2 separate regions of the Homo sapiens genome follow, and region 2 is linked to region 1. The links come from fine-mapping of genetic effects on gene expression. A gene starts in region 1. The other region holds a variant in brackets. All regions are shown on one strand. Distances are between the middles of the regions.

Region 1 (11,790 bases):
TTGAGCTCAGGAGTTCTAGACCAGCCTGGCCAACATGGTGAAACCCCATCTCTACTAAAAATACAAAAAAAAAAGCAAAAAAAAGCCAAGTGTGGTGGCACACCCTATAATCCCAGCTACTAGGGAGGCTGAGGCATGAGAATCACTTGAACCCAGGAGGCAGATGTTGCAGTGAGCCGGGATCATGCCATTGCACTCCAGCCTGGGCAACACAGCAAGACTCCATCCCCCCAAAAAATAAATAAATAAATAAAAGAATTGCAAAGGATGAAGCCACAGAGCTCTGCTAACATGCACCATGCTGATCACTCCATTGGAGGCTCCAAACTCTAAGAGGCTCAGGCTTGCCTCCTCTTTAGCTAATAGGAAATGAAGAGGCCTCAAGAAACTGCTGGGCTTCCTTGGGCATGGAAATGACCAAAGATGCTATGAATGGATCTATTGACTGCTCAGATGCATGGCTGGAGTCAAGCACATGACAGTCAGGTCTGGCAGCCCTGGGAGCCATTCTGTCTCTCTAAGGCAGAGGCTTTACCCATTTTTTGACAACACATCTTATCCCCAATATCTATTTATTTGTTTATAAATAATATAGCACTAGTATATTCCGTAGTACCACCTGCAAATTATATAGTACTTATATGCTATAAACATTATACGTGCACAAACATGAACTGTCTAAGGAAATACAAAGAAAAATCTGAAAGGTCTATATTATTTTCTTCTTTTGCCCCAGAAGATCTCTCAAGCACCATTCTGAGGCAATGGTTCTCAAACTTTGTGTAACCAAGAATTACTTGGAGATCTTGCTTAAAATGAAGGTTCACTGGGCCTTGACCCTAGTGTTGATTCCATTACTCAGTATTCCTGGGATGGGCCCATAAGTTGTCATTGTCTGAGCTCCCCAGCTGACTCTTATTCTCATGCTCAATTGGATTTTGCAGCCACTGATCCAGACCCTTGTGTTTTCCTGCCCCTTACATTTTTTGCTACAATTATATCACTGTGGTCTTATTGTTATCTACCTCCTGGACACCTTCGTGATCCCCTCAGTGAATTTAAACATTAAAAAAAATTAGCTACCATTAATTATTTCCTGTGGCCTAGGATTGCTGAGGGCTTCACATGCATTGCCTCACTTAATCAGACTAGGGAGGTATTATTAGTCCCATTATACAGGTGAAGAAAACTAAAGCTCAGTCACAATGTCTTATCCAAGTTCACTCAGCTAGTAAGCACAAGTGACAGACTAGGAATTCAAGCCTGTATCTGTCGGATTCCCAAGGCTGGACTCTTTTTTTTTTTTTCTTTTAGAGATAGGGTCTCACTCTGTCACCCAGGCTGGAGTGCAGTGGTGTGATCATAGCTCACTGCAGCCTCCACCTCCTGGGTTCAAGTAATATCCCTGCCTCAGCCTCCCAAGTACCTAGGACTACAGGTGTGTGCCACCATACCAGGCTAATTTTTTGGTTTTTATGTTTATATAGATGGGGTCTTGCTATGTTACCCAAGCTAGTCGCAAACTCCTGGCCTCAAGTGATCCTCCTGCCTCAGCCTCCCAAAGCACTGGGATTACAAGTGTGAGCCACTGCCCACTGCACCCAGCCTCAAAGCATGGACCCTTGACCACTAAGTATATTGCCCACAAAATAGGTCATTATAATTTATTGACCCTCTACTATGAACCAGGCACTTGGCTTGACACCTTACACACAAATCTCTAATATTCATGGCATACCTCTTTTCCTAGAGGTATTAATTTCAGTCCAGAGATTCTGATGTGCAATAAATTTCTCTATTCTCTGTAACCCATCTAAATTCCTGACTCTTAACCCCTATTTTCAGGCCTTCTGGATTTCTTCTCCCCACCCCACCCCCAACCCCAGTAGTTATGCCATAGTTCTGGACAAATACAATAGCCAGGCATGGGGTCAGGGGAGTGTGACCTAGTCCTCTGTCATCAGTCCACATTGGTGGCCACTGAGGGGCCCATCCTCCCATCAACATGACCTGCTGGCCCCAGAGACTCACTGCTCTCCCACCCTACATCAAGCCAGGTATATCTTTTGCCCATGTGCCAACACAGCCATTTCCTCCCTGGGTTCTTCTCTTCCAGCAGGATTTCTGGGAAGCAAGGTACTGTCCCCTCTGCTCTCAGACCCATAGACAAACCTCCCCCTTCCACACCACCTGCAAAGCCCAAGAGAATGTCTTTCTAGTGATGGCAAGGTGAGGGGTTCCTTCTCCCTTCACATCCCCTCAAGAAATGTTAGTCTTTTGCTTTTCTTTGTTGGCTAGAATTCACCTGCCCACACTTTGGGAGGCCAAGGCAGGAGGATCACTTGAGCCCAGGAGTTTATGGCCAGCCTGGGCAACATAGGAAGACCCTGTCTCTAAAATAAATAAAATAAAATAATATAAAATAAAATAAAATTCACTTGCCCTAAGGTCCTATATTTTTGGAAGACAAAAGATTTGTAGCCTTCTCTCTACTTTGCCCCTCTTAAGTGGAAGGGAGACAGTTTGGGAGAAAAATAAGTTGATATCTCAAAATATTATCTCAGATACATGTTGTCCCCATTTTATAGGTGAGGAGATTGAACTCATTAAGGTTATATAATATTATATACAGCAAGTAGATAGGCCTAGGACCCCCCCAGTTCAGGAAATCTCATACTCTGTGAAGTCCTCCCCTCTTCCCTGCCAGTAGCCTCCCTGGTCAGCTTCAAGAAAACACAACAGAGCTTGTGCATTAAAACCACCACTGGAAGGTCAGACCCGGTGATGGGGCAGGCTGGAAGAGCTTAGGTAGAGGTGAAAGCAGACAACACCCTGAAAGGGGACAGGTACCCACTCCTCCTTGTCATTTTCCAGGAGAGCCTTATAGAATTTGAGTTGGCATGAGATGATGTTAGAGGAATTTGGGGTGGTGCAAGTAAAGGAACTACAAGAGCTAGAAACAATCTTGAAGGCTTCTTCCCATGTTGAAAGTGTTCTTACCACGTAGAAAGTGGTAAGAAAGTGTACTCTGCAGAAATTTGGGGGGCGGGTGGGGGCACACGGTTGGTATTTCAGAGGCACTTGGATTCACTGGTGTCTTTTGATGAGTTTGTGTCCCGAATAAAATGGGGAGTGGCGGTGGTTACTGGCAGTACCCAGAGGAGAGGAGATGAGGGTGGGCACAGGGGAGAGGAGCCCGAGATGGGTAGCCAGCTGGTCTTACGTGCCAGCTTTATAGGAAAAAAAGTGGAACTTTCAGATTCTGCTTAACTGTGCAGGAGCCAGCCAAGTATCCAAGGCAGAAGTCCTTGCTCAGAAATTGTATATCTGATGGGCACGGTGACTCACGCCTGTAATCCCAGCACTTTGGGAGGCCGAGGTGGGTGGATCACAAGGTCAGGAGTTAGAGACCAGCCTGACCAACATGGTAAAACCCCGTCTCTACTAAAAATACAAAAATTAGCCAGGCATGGTGGTGGGCACCTGTAGTCCCACCTACTCTGAAGGCTGAAGCACTAGAATCGCTTGAACCTGGGAGGTGGAAGTTGCAGTGAACCGAGATCGCGCCACTGCACTCCAGCCTGGGCGACAGAGCAAGATTCCATCTCAAAAAAAAAAAAGAAAAAGAAAAAGAAATTGTATATCTGACGGGATGGTCCGCAAGCTTCGGGGCTTGGGAGGAAGGTACAGTCATAGGACAGAACACAGCTTTAGACTGGGTCAAGATCGTCCAAGTCTGGTGGTGGCTTCAGAAGGCCCTTTGAATGAGGCTCGTCCAGGCAATAATTACCATGTTATCTAATTTTGCCCGCTTAACGTTTCCACTTGGATGTCTAAGAGCCATCTCAAAGCCCCACGTGGCCAAGGCTGAATCTCTAATCTTCCCCCAACAGACCTGCTTCACTCACAGCTTCCCCTTCTCAGCTGACAGCAACCCCATTAATCTGCTTGTTCAAGCCAAAAAACCTGGAAGTCATCCTTAACTCCTCTCTTTCTCCCACATCTCACAACTCAGCAGTCAGAAAATCCTGTGGGCTCTACCTTCAAAATATATCCACCACCCATCCACCACTCCGCAGTTGCCCTTTACCATGCTGGGCCACGCCACCATCACCTCTCACTGGGCCACTGTAATAGCCTTCTAACAGATCTCCCCACTGCACCCTGGCTCACTTGCAAACCAGAGTGATATTTTAAAACTATAATACAAATCATATCACCCTTCTGCTCAGAGTCGCCCCCCATGTGTCAATGCATAAAAGTCAAAGTCCTTACAATGTCTCCCCATTCATTGGCCTCCTTGCTATTCCTGGAGCACACCAGGCATACTCCTACCTCAGGGCCTTTGCACAGACTGCCCGAAGCTCTCCTCCCCAAGACGTCCACAGGGGCAACTCCTTCACTTCCTTCAAACCTTTGCTGAAAGTTTAACTTCCCAATGCAATTCACTCTAACCACTCTGCTTAAAATCCCTACCTTCTCCCCAACCCCCTGCTTTTCTTGTAGTGGTTCCCATTACATTCTACCAGTCTACCTAATTTTTTTTTTTTTTTTTTTGAGACGGAGTCTCTCTGTGTCGCCCAGGCTGGAGTACAATGGCGCGATCTCAGTTCACTGCAACCTCCGCCTCCCAGGTTCAAGCGATTCTCCTGCCTCAGCTTCCTGAGTAGCTGGGATTACAGGCACTCACCTCCACGCCCAGCTAACTTTTGTATTTTTAGTACAGATGGGGTTTCACCATGTTGGTCAGGCTGGTCTCGAACTCCTGACCTCGTGATCCGCCCTCCTCGCCTCCCAAAGTGCTGTGATTACAGGAGTGAGCCACCGCTCCTGGCCAGAAATCTCTTCTTTATTATGTCTACTGTCCGTTATCCAACTCCAGAAGGTAAGAACCTCCACTGATACATAAGGACTTGTATACCCCACGTGCCTGCAACAGTGCTTGGCACCTAGTAGGCATACCAAAATATATAAATGTTGAACAAATGAAGAAAGTTAAAGTAAAACTAGAGGTCCAAAAATATCACAAAAGCCATCTATGGTCGCCTTTTCCCTACCTGATTTTGCTGAGTGGCCTTACTTTTCAGTCCTCTACACAGCTGGAACATTAATGAACACAGAGGGGGAAGAAGTGTGTTTACTCTAGGATCACCTCTCAATGGGTCACTTGGCAAGGGCATCTTTGCTTCTTCGTCAGCTCCTTTTGACACGGGGGTGAAGGGTTTTCTGCACCACACTTTGACCACAAGCATCACCAATTTCACTGAACCCAACAGAAATTTGGACCCTCTGGGGGCTCTCTGCGTGGCAGGGCCCTTTTCTTTTTCTTTGGGCTTAGGCTGCAATTTGAAACACCACTTTCCTGAGCCAGCATCCCCCTTGCAGCGCTGTCACAGGGAGGCTTAGGCAGCCACGTGGAAGCCACCTACCCCGACCTTTGGCAGAATTTCCAAACACAACACAGTAGCTTTAAGTTGATTAATTTGGAACTCTGACCTTGGCCCCAAAAGGTAAGAATACATAACAAGGTATTTTATTCTCAAAATGTGTCAGGATAAGAAGCACTTCTGTAAATCGACCTTTTTAAAATAGATATAATTAGATTTGCAGTTGGGGGCAGTAAAGAAAGGGTCTGAACAGTGGATAACATGTTGAGAGGTTAATTATTAATGGGCAGTCTTCCCTAACAAAGTATCTAATAGGCATTGTGGTCTCTTTGGCTTCAGAAATTACCAAGAAAGCCTGGACCCCGGGTGAAACGGAGAAATGGACACAAGTCCCCTGTGTTTCTCCATTCTGTTGGTTTTATGCATCTTTATCCAATCAAGTGCCCTTGGACAAAGCCTGAAACCAGGTAAGAGCCTGACTTTTCTCCAGAGATGGGCATGAACTTTTCTTTTTAAAACGTGTGTCACAAAGAATCCAGGGGTTTCTGACTGTATGGGACAGAGCTTGCTTCAGAGCGTGCCAGGTGGTTCTATACACGACCTCACAGGTTCACAGGGACACGTAGCCGTTTGTAAACAGAAATGAAATTTTAGAAAATCATCCTCGGATTAAAAGTCTTCTAAGAGTGCCTGCAGCTAGCAGTGAAGTCTCTTGCGTATCTGATATGGAAACAGTCATGCTAAAAGTTATTCAGCGGCAAATGATATGAAAGCGATTCAGATCTTCCTGAGAGTTAATGTGGCATCTAATTTGCAACCGGGGAGCCAGGCTTGCAATGAAATGCTCTGTCGGGTTGGGGTTGTCTAATTGCCTGCCTCTCTCAGAAGAGAGGGGAATTTATGAGAGTTCTATTTCCAGTCAGGTCTAAAGTAGAGATATCATTGCACAATTTCTAGACTTTGTTTTGCTGCCAAAATTTTAGTCTGAGGCTGAAGAATCCAACAGCCGTCCTGCCTGTTTTGTTTGTAAATTCACAAACTAGATTGATGGCGAAAGACAGATCAAATGCCTTATCAGGAAGGTAGTAGAGTGGAGCCCAGCTTCCAGGCTAAGCAGTGGACCAATAAATGACGGATCAGTTAATTGAACAATTTGGCCAGACTAGACAGGTGTTTGGGAATTTGTTTTGGTACTGGTTACTGGTCAGGAGCTAGTAACGCTAAGGTAGAGTCTGAGATTTTTCTTTTCTCTAAGACTAGCCTTGGAGAGAGCTCCGACAACTTTGAGAATTAGAAATTCCCTAACGGGATGTACCTAAAAATTTCAGAAGCTTTTTTCCCCTTTAAGAAAAAGGCTGTTCCTTTGTATTTGACTATTTTACTTCATAGGCCAGTTAATAACTGAGTAGCAGTATTAATTATTGCCATTCACTAAGTATTTTCTGTGCCAAGCACTATACTAATTATTTTTGACACATCATCTCATTTATAAAGCCACATCCAAAAATGACCCTTACATAATAATTTAGAGCCATACAGGTAAAATTGCTGGTAATCTTTATTCCCTTGGTTCATAGTGATTTTGCTAAAGGGCCTTTCCTGCCCTTTGCCCCGGAATGTTGTATTTGTTTGTTTACTTTTTAATGAAGTTTATAACACACTTCTAGAAAAGGGCCTCTATCATAAATCCTCAATGAGTTCTCACAAACTGAACCAGTACCCCAAAGCCTTCCTTGTGTGCCCCTTGAGCCTTAACATATATGATTTTTTCCTTTGGGGAGATTTTTCATTAATAGAAACACATCAGTTGCTCTTTTGCGTCTGGCTTCTTTCGTTCGACATTATGTTTGTGAAAGTCAACCATGCAGTTTCGTGGAGTTGAGGCTCATTCATTCTCACTGCTGTAGCATTCCACTGCGGGACCATGCCACACTTCCTTTATCCATTCTACTGTGGATTGGCCAGGACTGTTTTTGCAATGGAGCCATGGGAATTGGAAGCTGTCAGTGCTGAGATAGAGGTTGAAGGGAGGGATGGCCTCCCCCAGGCTTCTGGGTATTGTCCAGATTTTCCTTGAGCAATCTCATTGTCCTGATCAGCCTGCTTCTTTCCCCGGGGCCTAGTTTGTGCAAATGCTGAGAGAAGTGGCCACTATTAGCAAGAGGGTTCCTCAGAAAAGAGGATCCAAGTCAGGAGGCCTCTTGTTCTCTTGGAAGCAGAATCTCTTGGCAGAATTCTTTCTGCAATGAGTGAGCCCAATCTGTGTGCATGTGGCTGGTATGATGTCTTTCTGGGGAAACCGCAGGGAAGCCGGTGTCCTGTGGTGGAGCCCTTGTCAGGAAAGTTTCTACACCAATGGTTCTCAACAGGGGCAATTTTGCCCTCCAGGGGACACTTGGCAATGTCTGGAGACATTTTTGGTTTTTGGTTGTTAAGACCAGGGAGAGAGTGCTTCCCTTCCAGCATCTAGTGGGTAGAGGCCAGGGAAGCTGCTTCACATCCTACAATGCACAGGACAGCCCTCACAACAATGAATTGTCTGGCCCAAAACATTATTAGTGCAGAGGCTGAGAAACCATGATCTATGCCAAGCTTCAACTGTCACTCATCGAGCACCAGGAAGTACTCCCTCAAGGACCCTTCCTCTTTAGCCCCTCCTCCCAGCCTACTTCTTTTGAGTATTTATTATTAATGACATCTTACTAATGGAGTCACTAATGTGCTGCACACCCAGCATGTGCCAGGCACTCCACGGACATTTTATCTCATCCTCACCATATGGTTGAGTAAGCTGGCAGTTAAGTGCCTTGCCGGCGGTCGCATAGCTGGTCAGGGCAGAGCAGGGAGAGGTACCTGCAGCCTCAATCTGTCTACTGAGGCCGCAGTGCTCTGTGTCGAGCCCACACCCAGTGATTTGACAGCCAGAGGTTTCTAGAAAAACATTCTGCTCAGTTCCTCTCACAGAGAGGGAGATTTAGACAGTTGTTCCTGCCCTTCAGCACTAAGGGGGACTGGATAGCGTGAGCTGCTTGAAGCCCACATGGCACATCACACTTATGCCCAGCCCCAATGCCTGAGACCCAGGTTCCCCAGTCGGTGTTGCCATGAGAGCCAACGCTGCTCCTAGACCCTGGCAAGTCCCACCTTCCCGGTACTGGGCCCACTATCAACAGGCACCTTCTCCCTCCCCTCCACCCCAGCCTCAGCTTGCAAATCCTAGGAGCAGCTGAAAGCTACCTATTCAGTCAGTCCCTCATGAGTGTCACAAGCATACATGAGCACCTGCCATACGTAACGCAGTGCCTGAGTACAACTCACACACTCTGTTCACACGTTTCCTCTCTTAAAAATCACTGAGGACCCCAAACAGTGTTTATTATGTGAGATATCAATATTTCCTTCATTAGAAATTAAAACTGAGAAATCTTTAAAATCTGCTAACACTTTTTAAAATGATAATAAACCCTTGCATATTAACACATATAATGTAATTTTATGAAAAATAACTTGTATTTTCCAAATAAGTTTTAAATGGAGAAGAGTGACATTGTTTTACAAAGAAATGTTGCAAATCTCTCTAATATCTGGCTTCCCAAGACAGCTGGATTATCTTACCTGTTTCTGTACTCAGTCTGTTGTGATGTATTGCTTTGTTTGAAATGTAGGAAGAAAATCTGGCCTCCCATAGAGGAAAAGGGAGGACATCCTAAGGCGATCTCCCTGGGGCCTTGGCCTGCAAACCACTGCGCTTGTGCAGTGGGCACTGTACAACAGGGGGCTGCACAGCCGTCCCCACCTTGCAGGAATTTACAGTCAAATGGGGTGGGAGTGGGGTGGGGAGGGAATAGGGGGCCATGGGACTGGGTGGAGGGGGGATGTGCCATCAATAAAAGAGCAACCGTCTGTGGAGAATTTAAATACAAATATAACCAAAAGCTGATCTGCCTGTCATTATCACAATTATAAAGAATGTCAGCCGGGCGCCGTGGCTCACGCCTGTAATCCCAGCACTTTGGGAGGCCGAGGTGGGTGGATCACCTGAGGTTAGGAGTTCAAAACCAGCCTGGCCAACATGGTAAAATGCCATCTCTACTAAAAATACAAAACATTAGCCAGGCTTGGTCATGGGCACCTGTAATCCCAGCTACTTGGTACGCTGAGGCAGGAGAATTGCTTGAACCCGGGAGGCAGAGGTTGCAATGAGCCGAGATGGCGCCGTCGCACTCCATCCTGGGCAACAAAGTGAAACTCCATCCCAAAAGAAAGAGTATCAGCGATAAAGGCAAAGCTCTTTCCAGAAAAAAATGGTTTTATGGCCTAAGTTCTAAACAATCTCCGTGGTTACTGTTGGATTTTATGTAGTAAGTATATGTAAGCTTCAAATTCATCACATCTTTATTATTTATCCTTTCATAAATATTGTGTTCTACATTGACATTAATCTGGAGAACTCCCGGTTATGCACTTGGCCCCAACATGCACAGACTCAGGGGCGTGTTCTTGTTGCAAGAGTAAGTGTGCGATGGTTCAGATCCTTTGACGTCCTTATGTCTCCAACCTCAGTGGCACTTATTACCTGCTTCTGCATGTAAACAGTAGATTTGAAACAAAAAATGATAGCGTAGTGGTTGTACAAACAAAAAACCAGAACTTGAATTATTTCAATTCTCTCATCCTAGGTGACCCCTGTAAGCTTCTCATATGTGTTTAAAATTTAAAGCAACAAAACAGATTGTGAACAATGAGTTGTAACATCTTGTTTGATAGGTAAAAATTTGGACTCATACGAAAAATATTTTTACTGCATTTGAATATCTTAAAGTTAAAATGTATTTGTCTTTTTAAAAATTGTTCACTGCTTTATAACTAAAGAAGAAATCGAGAAAGTAGTGATGATTGCTGATTTTTACATAAATATGACTGAAAATACTTTTGTCTTATAGAGCAGAGGGTCATTAAAATGATCCGTTCTGTGTGTCAAATACATGAGGTATACCACTGAGTCACATATGTAAATGTTATCAGCTAGAACAGAACATGGCATGAGATGAGGACCATGAGAGAGGAATGAGTAGAGAAGCAGATTTTACTTCCAAGTGGAGGGAAGAAGGCTTCTTGGAGGAGGCGGCATTTGAGTAGGGTGTTGAAGGATGGTATCCGGACAGAAGAGAATGAGGCTTTCCTTGTACAATAGCAGAGGTACACAGCTGATAAAGTACATGTGCTTTTCAAGCCCAAATACCTTTCAAAAAAGACCATCTAGGAAGAAAAAGAAAAAATATCCCATAGAACGGTGTTGATAGCAACACTTGTTAAACTGCAACAAACTGGAAACAATGTGAATGCCCAAGTGCAAACCACTGAAGTTGGGGACTCCAGCTACTGCTAAGTCCAACTTCGAACAGGCATGGTTTTGAATACCTACTACTAGAAGTCACAGAAACTTTTGGGGGCAATAATGATGAAGTTCAGAAACAAAAGCCTATTGCTGGCCCCTAAGCACTCACAGTTTAACACCAGGGATCTTAGCACAGAGGATGGGTTTCCAAGAGTCGTTGAGCCTCCTGAGATGGTGCCCAAGGCTGTGTGTGTGTGCATTTTGAGTGGGGAGCAGGTGTCATAACTTTCAGCAAATTATCAAAGGGACCTGTGACCTCTGAAAAAGCTCAGTAACAACTGGTCTTGCAGCTTTGTAAAACAAGTATAAGAAAATTGTATATGCAATAATGTAGGGAAAAAAAAACAGGACTAAATAATCTACATGTTGAATCATAATTATGAAAACACTGTAGACACATGCTGTATATTGCTAGAGATTCTAAGTATATTTAAAGATATATAAAGGGTTTTAAGGTTTGGAGGATTTAAGTACTTAAATGTACAAGAAAAATAAAATAAAAAGGCCCTGATCAGCTACAGTTAGATTGGTCATCCCAAGACGACCCCCGGGAAAGGGATTTTCCACTGTCCTTCCGACCTGCCACCAGCACCCAACTTTGCAGGTTCAGCCACACTCAAAATCACTACCCCAGCAGGGTCTGTCAGATTTCTGAGAGGCCTCCACAGTTACATGGAATGTCACCCATGACTAATATTTGAGATAGAGTCCGGAGATGAAACTCATTCTTCCAAGAGTGCGTACTATTCTGGAATCAGCAGAGGGCCAGCCCCCAGCATTCCAGGGAAATTCTATCTTTCCCATGCAAGAGACCCTCCCATCCATGGCCATCCTTCCTAGCCCTACAGCTGAGCAGGTCTGTGGTCCTGCTGAAAGGTCCACCCTGGAGAGACGGGGGACAGCAGCCTGTCCTCCACTCTGCTTGCCTCTCACAGAGACCCAGGACTGGAACCCATATTCTTTCATTCTGAGCTGGAGAGAGAAACTGCAGGGCTGACGGTTGAA
Region 2 (11,790 bases), 21 kb before region 1:
CTGAGGTCTCCATGGCCTTGCTGGCTGTCAACCAGGGACTAGTCTCAATGCCAAAGGCCACTCTCAGTCCTGGTACCTGGCACCCTCCATCTTCAAAGTCAGCAATGATGTACTGAATCCTTTTCATACTTTGAATCTCTCTGACTTCCCCACTTCTGCCACTAGCCAAAGAGGGCTCATGTGATTAGATAATAATATAGATAATAAGCCTTTTGCCATACTCATGGATGTGACACCAGAGGGTAAAGATCATAAGACCATCTTAAAATTTTACCTACCACAGTTACCACTAAAAAATATGTAATTAGGACTTATTCCTGGAGTTCAGGATAGGGTCAAGTTTCCCTGAATCATGACAGGGACAGGTGGACTGCCAATCAAAAGTAGGACTCTGCAAGTGAAAAGTTAAAGGAGAGAAGGGCTGTTGGGTGGGCAAAAAAGAGTGTCTGATTTAATTTTTTTCTGTGAAATTGAGTTATTAACCTGTCAACATAAATTCACAGAGCTATAATATTGGAGAGGAGAGGTTTGTTTTTTATAAAGGGTTGCAGCCTGCAGGCTGGAAATCCCACAGGCTTGGAAGCACAGCCTCCAGCAGAAACCAAAAGCAGGCACTTTGAGGGAGGAAAGAGTAGAACAGGAATTTGTGATGAACGGGTTAGCTAAGTACACATATTCAACAGGTTATAGGAAGAGCTATGAATATTCCCGAAGGCAGGTACACACATGCCTAGTAAACAAACATGCATGTTACATGCGTCCCATGTTCACTTTGGGGTACAGACTTAACATTTAAATTCCTTGCAATTAGGTCCTATAGGTCAAATGGTGAAGCAGGGGACAGGAAGGCACTCTGTGCAAGCCTCTGTAAACTGGCCAGAACCAGTCTATGGTCAGTGGACTCTTAACCAGGAGAAAGTTACTGAAATCAGTCTCTTATCCAATCAAAGTAGTAGTTATGGCTTGCAGAAAAGGGGTAGGGAGATGGATGAGTTAGTGTCTGGTGGTTGGTGAGCTGCAATTATTTCAATATTGCTTCTCCAGAGGCCAGTGCTTATTTAGCGGCTAGAGAAAAAGAAAAACCTTGCAGCTATTAGAACCTAGTTTATTCTTTAAGTGTTGGGATGTGTGACTTAACCCTACCCTGGCATGGCCTTGGGTCTTGTTTATAATTTAGTATCTTTTTGCCACAAAGAGTCCATTCCGTCATTCTTATGATCTCTATTTTAACACCCCTAATTTAGTTAAACAGTAGAACATCATCTAGCTGGTGAAAATTATTTTTTTATAAGAACATAATGTATAAAAACCACTGATCAGGACAAGGATCCCTGCTTCATTTAACTTTCCCGTCCTCTCCCTCCACCCTCACTATCCCCACCCCATCTCCTCAGCCTGCACCACGCTCCCCCACGGACTATGAAGAATGCAGACTCACAGGGAGTTTCATAGTGTTTTCTTGCAAAAGTACTGAGTATAGCCAGATTTCTCATGTGGATTTTTCACTGGTTTGTTTCTGTTAGGCAAAACGGAAGGACAAGGGTTGATGGAGAAGGGAGGCACATCTCATACAGCTTCCTCACAGCAGGTCCTAACACTGTCCATTGTGTTTAGAATGAGCCTTTATGTGGCTTTCCATGGGTTTCTGGTGAAAAATCACAACCCTCTCTGAGACGGAGATGCCCCATCACCTGTTCTTTCACTGCATTATTTTCTGTTTCACTGCCTCAAACCAGACTCAGACCTCCAGTGCTCTTTATTTCAATTACTTTTACCTGTTTTATGACATCTATTTGGGTTTAACTTTTGGTTCCTCCACCAAAAAGTCTGAAATTCCAGGTCAGAGTTCTCCAAGGAGCTTATATGTGTTTGCACAAACATGTGGAAATCCTTAGGAACTACCAATTATCAACCACTCAGAACTCAGTGCCTTGGTATTTTTTGCTGTTGTGGAGGCTTGTGTTTACCTTTTATTTTAAGCACTTTCCAGCCCATCCTCTTGAAGCACCTGGCCTTACCAGGGGCCTTGCTCATTTGTTCTTGCTGCCTCCTCCATTCAGAAGACCCATCAATCAGTGTCTGAAACAAGGACCTTCTGTGTAGAATCAAAAGCCACCACATCACAGCTGAAGGCAACAGAATGCAGTGGGCATTGTTGTTTGTACACAGGCCTTCGTCTCTTTCAGAAGTGTCTCTGTTTGAAATGAATGAGGCAGACAAGAGTGTGGCTTCAAAAGCAACTCTCCCCCTCTGGGCTTTGCTTATTGAAAGTCCTGTGAGCACTGTTACTAGAAAGTAAAGAGAATAAAAGGCAAACCTGAGGCAGGCTACAGGTTCCCAGGCAAGGCAGTCACATCCAGCCTCAGCCAGGCAGTACCGCCAGTCATTGGCCTTCACTTTGTCTATTTGAGTTTGCAAGGTTAACATGAAAGAGGCTGTTTATTTTCTCCCAACGATTATGCTTAAAAATTACATGAACTTCCCTCACCGAGACCCTTGCCCAGATGTACAACAGGCTTCTCTCTCTGCCGGTACCTCTTAAGGGTGTCATTGCTGATGGAACTAGAGCTACCTTCACTACTGTTGCCATGGTTACACTTTCTGTACCAGAAAATTGGCTGATCCTTGGCCCAGCTCTCCCACCTGGCTATCATCTCCTCTGCAGCAGGAGGCCTCCTTATTCCCTGATCTATTTTGTGTTTGGCTGGAAGATTGGCGAGCACATAGTTTTCCATGGTACTCATGACCCTTCTGTAAACTCTTAATGACCCTAATGTTGATTAGGACCCAAAGTCTTGGGCCAGTGGAAAAGTTAAAACAAAGTTCAAGACTCATATAGATGATGATCCCAATAATCATCTACATGGCTTGAGAATCATCACCTCCATCTTTTGTCTGCAGAGGGTTTGCAATGAGAGCTAGAGAGTTCAGAGCCAAATATCTGGCCCATCACTGGGAAGTATAAAAGACTGTACAACATATATTTGAAGTGTAATTTCATTTATCAATTCACTATATTTTTCCCATCCTTTTTTCCTACTTAATTTTCCTCTTAATGTCTTGCATTGTTTTTATCTTTTAAAAGTGCTTTAAATTCTTTTGAAGCAAAACTAAATATAAGGAAAACATAGGCATAATCATCAAAAATCCATTGGATTCTTGCTATTATGAGGGGAGGGGGAAAAGTACAAAGGTTTTTCTGTCCAAAAAGAGACAATTCACTTAATGCAAAGTACCTGGAACATATTCTGTGTAAAATCAAATCGAATAATTTTATATATATTTTCTTTTGAAAAAAATACACGATTAGATTCAAGAAAAATTGAATTTCTGGTACAAAGGAGGAATAAGGACATGGCCTTCCTAATCCAAGAAGCTCCATGAATAACTAGGGGCCTGCTTTCTTTCACACAAGAAAGCTGGGTAGTACTTTCAAAAACCTGAGATGGATGGGGCACAGTGGCTCATGCCTGTAATCTCAGTACTTTGGGAGGCTGAGGCGGGCATATCACTTGAGATCAGGAGTTCGAGACCAGCCTGGCAAACATGGTGAAACCCCATCTCTACCAAAAATACAGAAATTAGCCAGGCATCATGGTGCATGCCTGTAGTCCCAGCTACCTGGGAGCCTGAGGCAGGAGAACTGCTTGAACCTGGGAGGTGGAGGTTGCAGTGAGCCAAGATCGCACCACTGCACACTAGCCTGGGAGACAGAGCAAGACTCTGTCTCAAAAAACAAAAACGAAAACACAACCTGAGATGGACCATGTGAGCAGGTGATACCATCAGGGAGTGCTCAGTGTGTTCTAAAAATCGCAGTGTCTGGCACACAGCAAAAGCTTCACAAATATACACCAAATAAACAAGGAAAATAAGTAAAAAACATTATGCCTGCATGCTAAATAAATTCACAGATAATCTTCAAATTAACCTGGGTAGAAATGATTTAGCAATACTGAGAAAAGTGGATGCTATCAAGGGTGTTAGTTATTTTAATCCTCTTGACAACACTTTTAGATATTTTTATCTCCAGTTGTTTTTCAGATGAGATTGAGGAAGATTAAGTAATTTGTGCAAGACCACATAACGAGCAAGTGAAAGACCCAGGACTTGAGCCCAAGGCTTTCTAATTGTAAAAGTAGAATCTATCCCCTCAGTCTACTCCACTGTTGCCCAAGCTAATGTTAAGAACACAAATCCGGCTGGGCACGATGGCTCATGCCTGTAATCTCAGCACTTTGGGAGGCCGAGGTGGGTGGATCACTTGAGATGAGGAGTTTGAGGCCAGCCTGGCCAACATGGTAGAACACCGTCTCTACTAAAAATACAAAAATTAGCCGGGTGTGGTGGTGTGTGTCTGTAGTCCCAGCTAAGCAGGAGGCTGAGGCAGGAAAATCACTTGAACCTAGGAGGTGGAGGTTGCAGTAAGCCAAGATCGCGCCACTGCACTCCAGCCTGGATGACAGAGTGAGACTCTGTCTCAAAAAAACAAACAAACAAACAGAAAAAGAGACCACAAATCTGAGGCCCCATCCCAGACCCACTGAAGCAGAATCTCTAGGGAGGAACTTAGAAACATTTGTGTAACAAGACACCAGATGATGATTATTATCAGAGAAGTTTAAAAAAAAAAAAAAAAAAAAGACACCTCTATTGCATCAGATGGGAAATGGACCTACAGCATCCTCTGAGGGATCAAATAAAAGCCATCAGATTTGAAGTTCATACAAGTAAAAATAAATCAGGTCAGTCTGGAGCATATCAGATTATGATATTATAGACTATTCTTCAGTTTGGTAATATAGAATTGTCTGATTTAAGGTTTTCTGGATCTTAAAATACCAAGAACATTTGAAAAGTTAAAAATGGGTTCCAATTTAAACCTCAGACTTTTTTTTAGCTTTCCTCACTGCCTCTGATCCTGAGGAGCAGAAGTGAATGTGAACGCACTTTGAATTCCTAGCAGCTTTCACTGATGCAGAGGTTCCAGCTGTACAGGGGCTGGAGGACTGCTGAGGAGAACAACAAGCTGAGAATCAGTCCTCATCTCTGGTTGCCCCCCACCCCACCCTCATTGCCTTTCATTGGATGAGCAAGTCACACAATCCAGGAAGTGGAAAATCTATCATCGCTTGGTTGGTTTTTCTTAGTTTCAGTTTTTCCACGCCTGATGAGAATTGCCAAGGCACAGCAAAGCCTGCAGCTTCCATACCCGTCATGAGAGCAAATAACTTATTTGTAAACCTAAGCACTTAATTAACTAAATGGAAAGCAAGGCAGTGAGTGATTCCTGACATGGCCGAATTTAAGTCAAGCTGTGAAGCTCCAGGTGCAGCCAGAAATGGAGATGGACAACTTGAACTGAACCCTGAGAGCTTCTAAAAAGGCTTTGGACCACTGCTTCTCAGCAGTTTTTCTTGTAAGTTATTCCCATTATCTCAAAGAAAAATTTAAAATATGGTTGGAGAAAAGTATAGAACTGATTATCCCCATTTTGAGCATAGATCATCGTTTAACCAACTTGCTTTCTAACTGCCAAGAAACTTGCTTTGGATGGTATTTCCAGACATAATGTCTATCATAGCAAATATTGACAATTGCATTTTACAAATAATCAGTTTAATATGCTTTAATATGCTTCTATTTCTGATTGCTCTTGATCTCATTTAATCTTCGAAGCAACTCTATCACGTTGGTGTGCTTATTAACATTATTTTACAGATAAAGACGCCTGTAAGTAGCTTCCTCACAGGGTATTTAAGGAACTTGTAGAAAGTCCACAGCTAGTAGCTGGGAGCCCATCTCATATCAATACACTAGCTTCTCCCCAAAGAACTTTATATATTTAGGCCATTGATTTCTTTTTTTTTTTTTTTGAGACGGAGTCTC[A/G]CTCTGTCACCCAGGCTGGAGTGCAGTGGCAACATCTCGGCTCACTGCCACAGCTCCACCTCCCGGGTTCACGCCATTCTCCTGCCTCAGCCTCCCGAGTAGCTGGGACTACAGGCACCCGCCACCAGGCCCGGCTAATTTTTTGTATTTTTAGTAGAGACGGGGTTTTATCGTGTTAGCCAGGATGGTCTTGATCTCCTGACATTGTGATCCGCCCACCTCGGCCTCCCAAAGTGCTGGGATTACAGGCGTGAGCCACCGCGCCCGGCCTTAGGCCATTGATTTCTAAAAAGACAAATTCTCATATTGGATTAAAACATAAGACCCAACAATACGTATGTTGCTTAAAAATAGGAATCTGTTACCCAAAAAATGCAGAAATGCTAAAATAAAAAGGTTTAATGAGGAAACTCATACGACAAAAAGAAAATAGTTGGTAAAGTTGATAGCATATAAAAGAGATTTTGAAGCCAAAAACACAGGGAGAGGATACAAAGAAGCTCCTGATTATGATAAAAAATAGAAAATCAACTGTGAAGACAGAGGTTACTAAAGTCAGAAATGCAAAGAGAAATAGAATAAAAAACAAGCAATTGTAAAGGGAGAGTTTAATTCATTTCAAGGCTAAGAAAAAAATAGACAAGAGTAAAAAATAAAGACAAATTTAAATAGACAAAAATTTAGAAGACATTGAAGACGTGACAAAAATAGACAATAGAGGTTATGTTATACAATTGATAAGTTAGAACCAATAGACATACACTGAACTCAATACCAACATAGATTACACATTTTTTTCCATATGGGGGCATTGGTACATATATACTAACTCTCAAATAAGGCCCTAAAAATTGAATCAAGAGGAAAAAATATACATATTTTCTCACCACATGCAATAAAGCTAAATGTGAATAAGTAAAAGCAATGAAAGGAGCCTTGGGCAAAAGAATAATCTAACCAAGAGCCTTTGCAGCAAACAGTTCGGGGTTTAGATTATAAACTACATTCCTTACTGCAGTGTGACCTGGGCAGTTTACTGAACCTCTCTGAACCTTGGATTCCTCATCTAAAAATGAGGCTCTACCTTGCAAAGTTGTTATGAAGATTACCTATAAGTATGTCAAATAAACTAAGACTTAAAAGAGAGTTAAAACCGTAAGCCGTACAATATAACTCCATTTTTAATGTACTCATATTTAACTAGAAAAAGTATCTAGAGTTTTTGTCGATTGAAAGCAAAAGTCTATAAAATATTCATCTAAATACTAACAGTGGTTATCTCTGTGCACTGATATTTCTGCCAATTTTTGTTATATTGCTTTATCTTTTCTACTATGAATATATAGTATGTGAATAATAAAAAATAGTAAATTTGAAAATAAACATGAACTTCTGAAAAACAGAGTACAAGAAGAAAATAAATATTTACTCTTGGGTGGCCTACAGATGGTGGTTGCGGTAGGCATACAGCCATCTCAGTTTCTTGTCTGTCATTGTAAATTCTAAAATACCCTCAATTTCTGTCTTTCTACATATATACACGTATACGCACACACATATATAAAACACACATATATTTTATATTTATATATGTTTTATATATATGTTTTTAATATATGTTTTATATATATTAAAAAACACAATATTGGGATAACTGACAATTTGAATGTGGATGGTGGGATTAATCATATGGTATCATGAAATTTCCTGATTTTACTGTTAAATTTCTTGAATTTTATAAAAGAAAATATTTGTGTCCAGAAATATATATTGAAGTATTTAGATATATATGTATGTATGCAGCTTACTCTCAAATTGTTCAGAAAAACATTCACATATCCATAAAGACAGAGTGAATGATAACTAGGGAAAAATACAAACCAACAGTGCACCTAGGTAAAGGGTGTATAGGAGTTCATACTAGTCTTTTAACATTTCTGTAAGTTTAAAATTATATTAAAATATTAATAAAAAATTACAGCAGCAACAAATTAATGGGTATCAATGTCTAACAACCACAAAAACTTTCCTAAACTACAAGTTCAAGTAGAACAGGGGTCTCCAACCCCCAGTACCAGTGTGTGGCCTGTTAGGAACCTGGCCACACAGCAGGAGGTGAGCAGCAGAGCTTTATCTGTATTTACAGTCGCTACGCATCAGTCACATTCACACTAAACTCCGCCTCCTGTCAGATCAGCAGTGGCATTAGATTCTCATAGGACCACAAACCCTATTGTGAACTGTGCCTGTGAGGAATCTAGATTGCATGGTCCTTATGAGAATCTAATGCCTGATGATCTGTCACTGTCTCCCATCACCCCCAAACAGGACCATCTAGTTTCAGGCAAACAATCTCAGGCCTCCCACTTATTCTACATTACGGTGAGTAGATTATAGTTATATCATTATTTCATTATATATTAACAATGTAATAATAATGGAAATAAAGTACACAATAAATGCAATATGCTCAAATCATTCTGAAACCATCACGCATCCACCCCCATTCATGGAAAAACTGTCTCCCACAAAACTGGTCCCTGGTGCCAAAAATGTTAGGGACCAGTGAAGTAGATAATTAAGAACATGATAACAACTTTTGAGATGTTTATAAAATTGAAAACACCCCATATCAAAAGGGAGGGGGCTTTGTATAAATCAGAGCCCAGAAGTTAAGGCGTAAATCTATGTGCTTTTATTTTAGAAATATGAAATAAACATTTGACTTAAAATCTTATGAAGACAGTCAATATAAAGGAAAATAGATAATAATAAAGAGTAAGGACAGAAATAAACTAGAAAAGAGGAAATCAGTGGAAATAATACATAAATTTAGATGCTCATTCTGTGAGAAGATTATAAGATAGATCAATCCCTTGGAAATACAATAAATAAAAGAAAAGGTATAAATCAACAAAATTAAAAACAAGGCTAGTGATTTAACAACCGATACAAAAGATTTTAAAATATAAATGATTGCAATGCAAAATTTATGATAATCAACTTGAAATGCTTAGCCAAATGGACAACACAAAATATTAACTGGCAAGAGAAAATGTAGATAACATGAAAATAATGATGAAGGCAAAGGAAACTGAAAAGCTGTTATTTAAAAAAATCTCATCTACCACAAGAAATATTATGACCTCAACAAATTTACTGAACAATATTACTACATACTCAAGAAACAGATTTTTCTGTATTATGTAATCAGTTCCAAATCACAGAAAAACAAGATCTGATACCCAATTCATTCTAAGAGATGAGTATTATCCCCATCCACAAACCTGTGAGAAATACCACACAGGCGCACACACACATAAACACACGGTCTTAGGATGGCAAATGTGCACAAGTGCCAATTCCTATAAAACTGGCTCGAAATGATTAGAACCAGGCTCAAAGATATTAGCAGATTTTCCCAAAACAGCTGCTGAATAAGTGAATATATGAATACACAGATGAAGAAAATAATGCAGGCAATTAGCAACATCTACTAAAGACCTAAAAGGCAGGAATGGCTTGTGCATACTGTCTATTTGCTAAATTTTATTGATCAATAAATTTTATCTATCCATGGGTTACTCAAGGAGCATAGGCAGAAAAATCATTTTTAACTGAGCTTATAAAATACAGCTATAAATTAAAACAATAGCATGTAGCCACTAATTAAGGTAAATTCTACTGATGCCAGAAGATTATAACAAATCACAGAATATCTTTTGTAAAGGAATTACTATTTGGGCTGGACCCAGTGGCTCATGCCTGTAATCCCAGCACTTTGGGAGGCCAAGGCTGGTGGATCACAAGGTCAGGAGTTCAAGACCAGCCTGACCAACATGGTGAAACCCCGTCTCTACTAAAAAATACAAAAAAAAAAAAAAAAAAAAAAAATGGCTGGGTGTGGTGGTGCATGCCTGTAATCCCAGCTGCTCACGAGGCTGAGGCAGGAGAATCACATGAACCCGGGAGGTGGAGGTTGCAGTGAGCAGAGATCACGCCATTGCACTCCAGCATGGGCAACAGAGCAAGACTCCATCTCAAAAAAAAAAAAAAAAAAAAAAGGAAAATTGAAGAAATGAAGACATTAAGGATATTCCTGAAGGGAAAGACTGTGTAAATCTCATTAAACAAAAATGTAAACTCTGTGAAACAAGACATTACAGGCGATATGAAAGATAAAATGCAAACTGGGAGGATATCTGCAATGAACTAATAGAAATAAGGACAAAAGATATGAATAAGCTATTCTCAGCAACAGAAATTTGAATGAACAATCACACACGTAAGAAAATGTTCAACCTCACCAGTAATCAGAAAATTTAAAATTAAAACAATGAGATACCATTTTACATCCATCAAACTGGTGAAAATTAAATAATCTGACACTCCTCAAGTGTTGGTGATGAGGTGGAAAAACTGAAGGAACACTCACATTTTGCCAACGATACTTTCACGGAAGTAATTTATTTGAAGAATAAATTGTCAACATCTTACTAACTCTGATGGGACATATATCTTACAATCCAGCAATTTCACTTCTAGGAATAAACTCTAGAAGCTTTCACTTGTGGATGATGCAATGTCTACTGCAATATTGTAATAGGAAAATGAAAAAACTAAATAACACAAGTATCCATCAACCCAATGAACAAATTCTGATACTTTCTTAAAATGGGACCATTTGTAGGTGTTTTATCAACAGAGATAAATCTCGAAAATACACTGCTGAGTGACAAAACAAGTTGCAGATAGATGTGTAGAGTATAAAAGTTTGAAAACATACAAAATAATGGTACAATCATCCCTCTATATCCATGGGATTCCACATCCATAGATTCAATCAACCGAGGATGCAAAATATTTGGGGGGAAAATTATACAAAATTCCAAAAGGCAAAACTTGAATTTGCCACATCCTGAGTACCATGTTAAAACCAGGCAAATGAAGGGATGTATAGGCATTGTATTAAGTATTATAAGTAATCTAGAGGTGATTTACAGCATATGACAGAATGTGCATAGGTTATATGCAAACACTACACCATTTTGTATCAGGGACTTGAGCATCAGTGGGTGGTCCTGGAACCAATCCCACACAGATACTGAGGAACTACTGTATATTTTTCGTAGCTACATACATATGCTGCAAACATATACACACAGAGATGAGAATGAAAGACACCAAACTCAGGGTGGCGTTGCCTCTGAGACAGGAAAAATAAGATCAGGCTTGAGAAGAGATACACAGTTATACAGGTACAGCACTCTATTTTTTAGCAAAAATAGGAAGCAAGTACAGCAAAATATTAGGATTTGATGGAGCTGGGAAGTAGGTGGTATTCAAAACTATGCATTATACGCATGCGTGTGTTTGAAATCATTATAATTTCTTAAGTGAGCACCTCAGTTTTTACATATAAAAACATATAAAGTATGTAAAATATATAAATATCATGAACAGATAATTCATAAAGAAAGAAAAAAGGCAATAAAAATGGAAGTGGTGGTAAATTCAACTTCAACCCATTGGTTTTAAAGAAAAATTTAAAAATGCACATACCATTTTGGCTTATCAATTTAGCATAAAATTACAAAAATGTTAATAGCTAATGTTAACAAGGGTGGAGGATAGGACAGAGGAGGAGTACACTCACTGCTAATGAGTACTTAAAATGACAGAAATTTACTTAACGTAGCAGTGTATATGTAAAGGCAAAATATATAGGTAGATATAGATACCTAGATATAAAACCTTTGCCTTAGCAATTCTACTTTAAGAAATTTATACAAAGGAAAACGTGGTACATATATGATCTGTAGTATTATTTTTAAGGAATACTACGCAGCCATAAAAAAGAACAAAATCACATCCTTTGCAGCAACATGGCTACAGCTGAAG

What was found.
Region 2: its variant is fine-mapped to the expression of LIPC in whole blood (INTERVAL, PIP above 0.99).

The regions. Positions count from the first base shown.
Region 1 is chr15:58,426,267-58,438,056 of GRCh38, forward strand. It overlaps LIPC (lipase C, hepatic type), which reads left to right and starts at 5,725. Exons shown (of 9, transcript NM_000236.3): 1 at 5,725-5,854. The coding sequence starts at 5,767. It overlaps LIPC-AS1 (LIPC antisense RNA 1), which reads right to left. Exons shown (of 3, transcript NR_120338.1): 3 at 8,635-10,646. RefSeq lists an enhancer at 3,744-4,038 and a silencer at 3,744-4,038.
Region 2 is chr15:58,405,400-58,417,189 of GRCh38, forward strand. No RefSeq gene overlaps it. Among named protein-coding and RNA genes, the nearest start is that of LIPC, 21 kb to the right of the region's middle. RefSeq lists a silencer at 5,071-5,365. The variant A/G (reference allele first, on the strand shown) is at 5,890.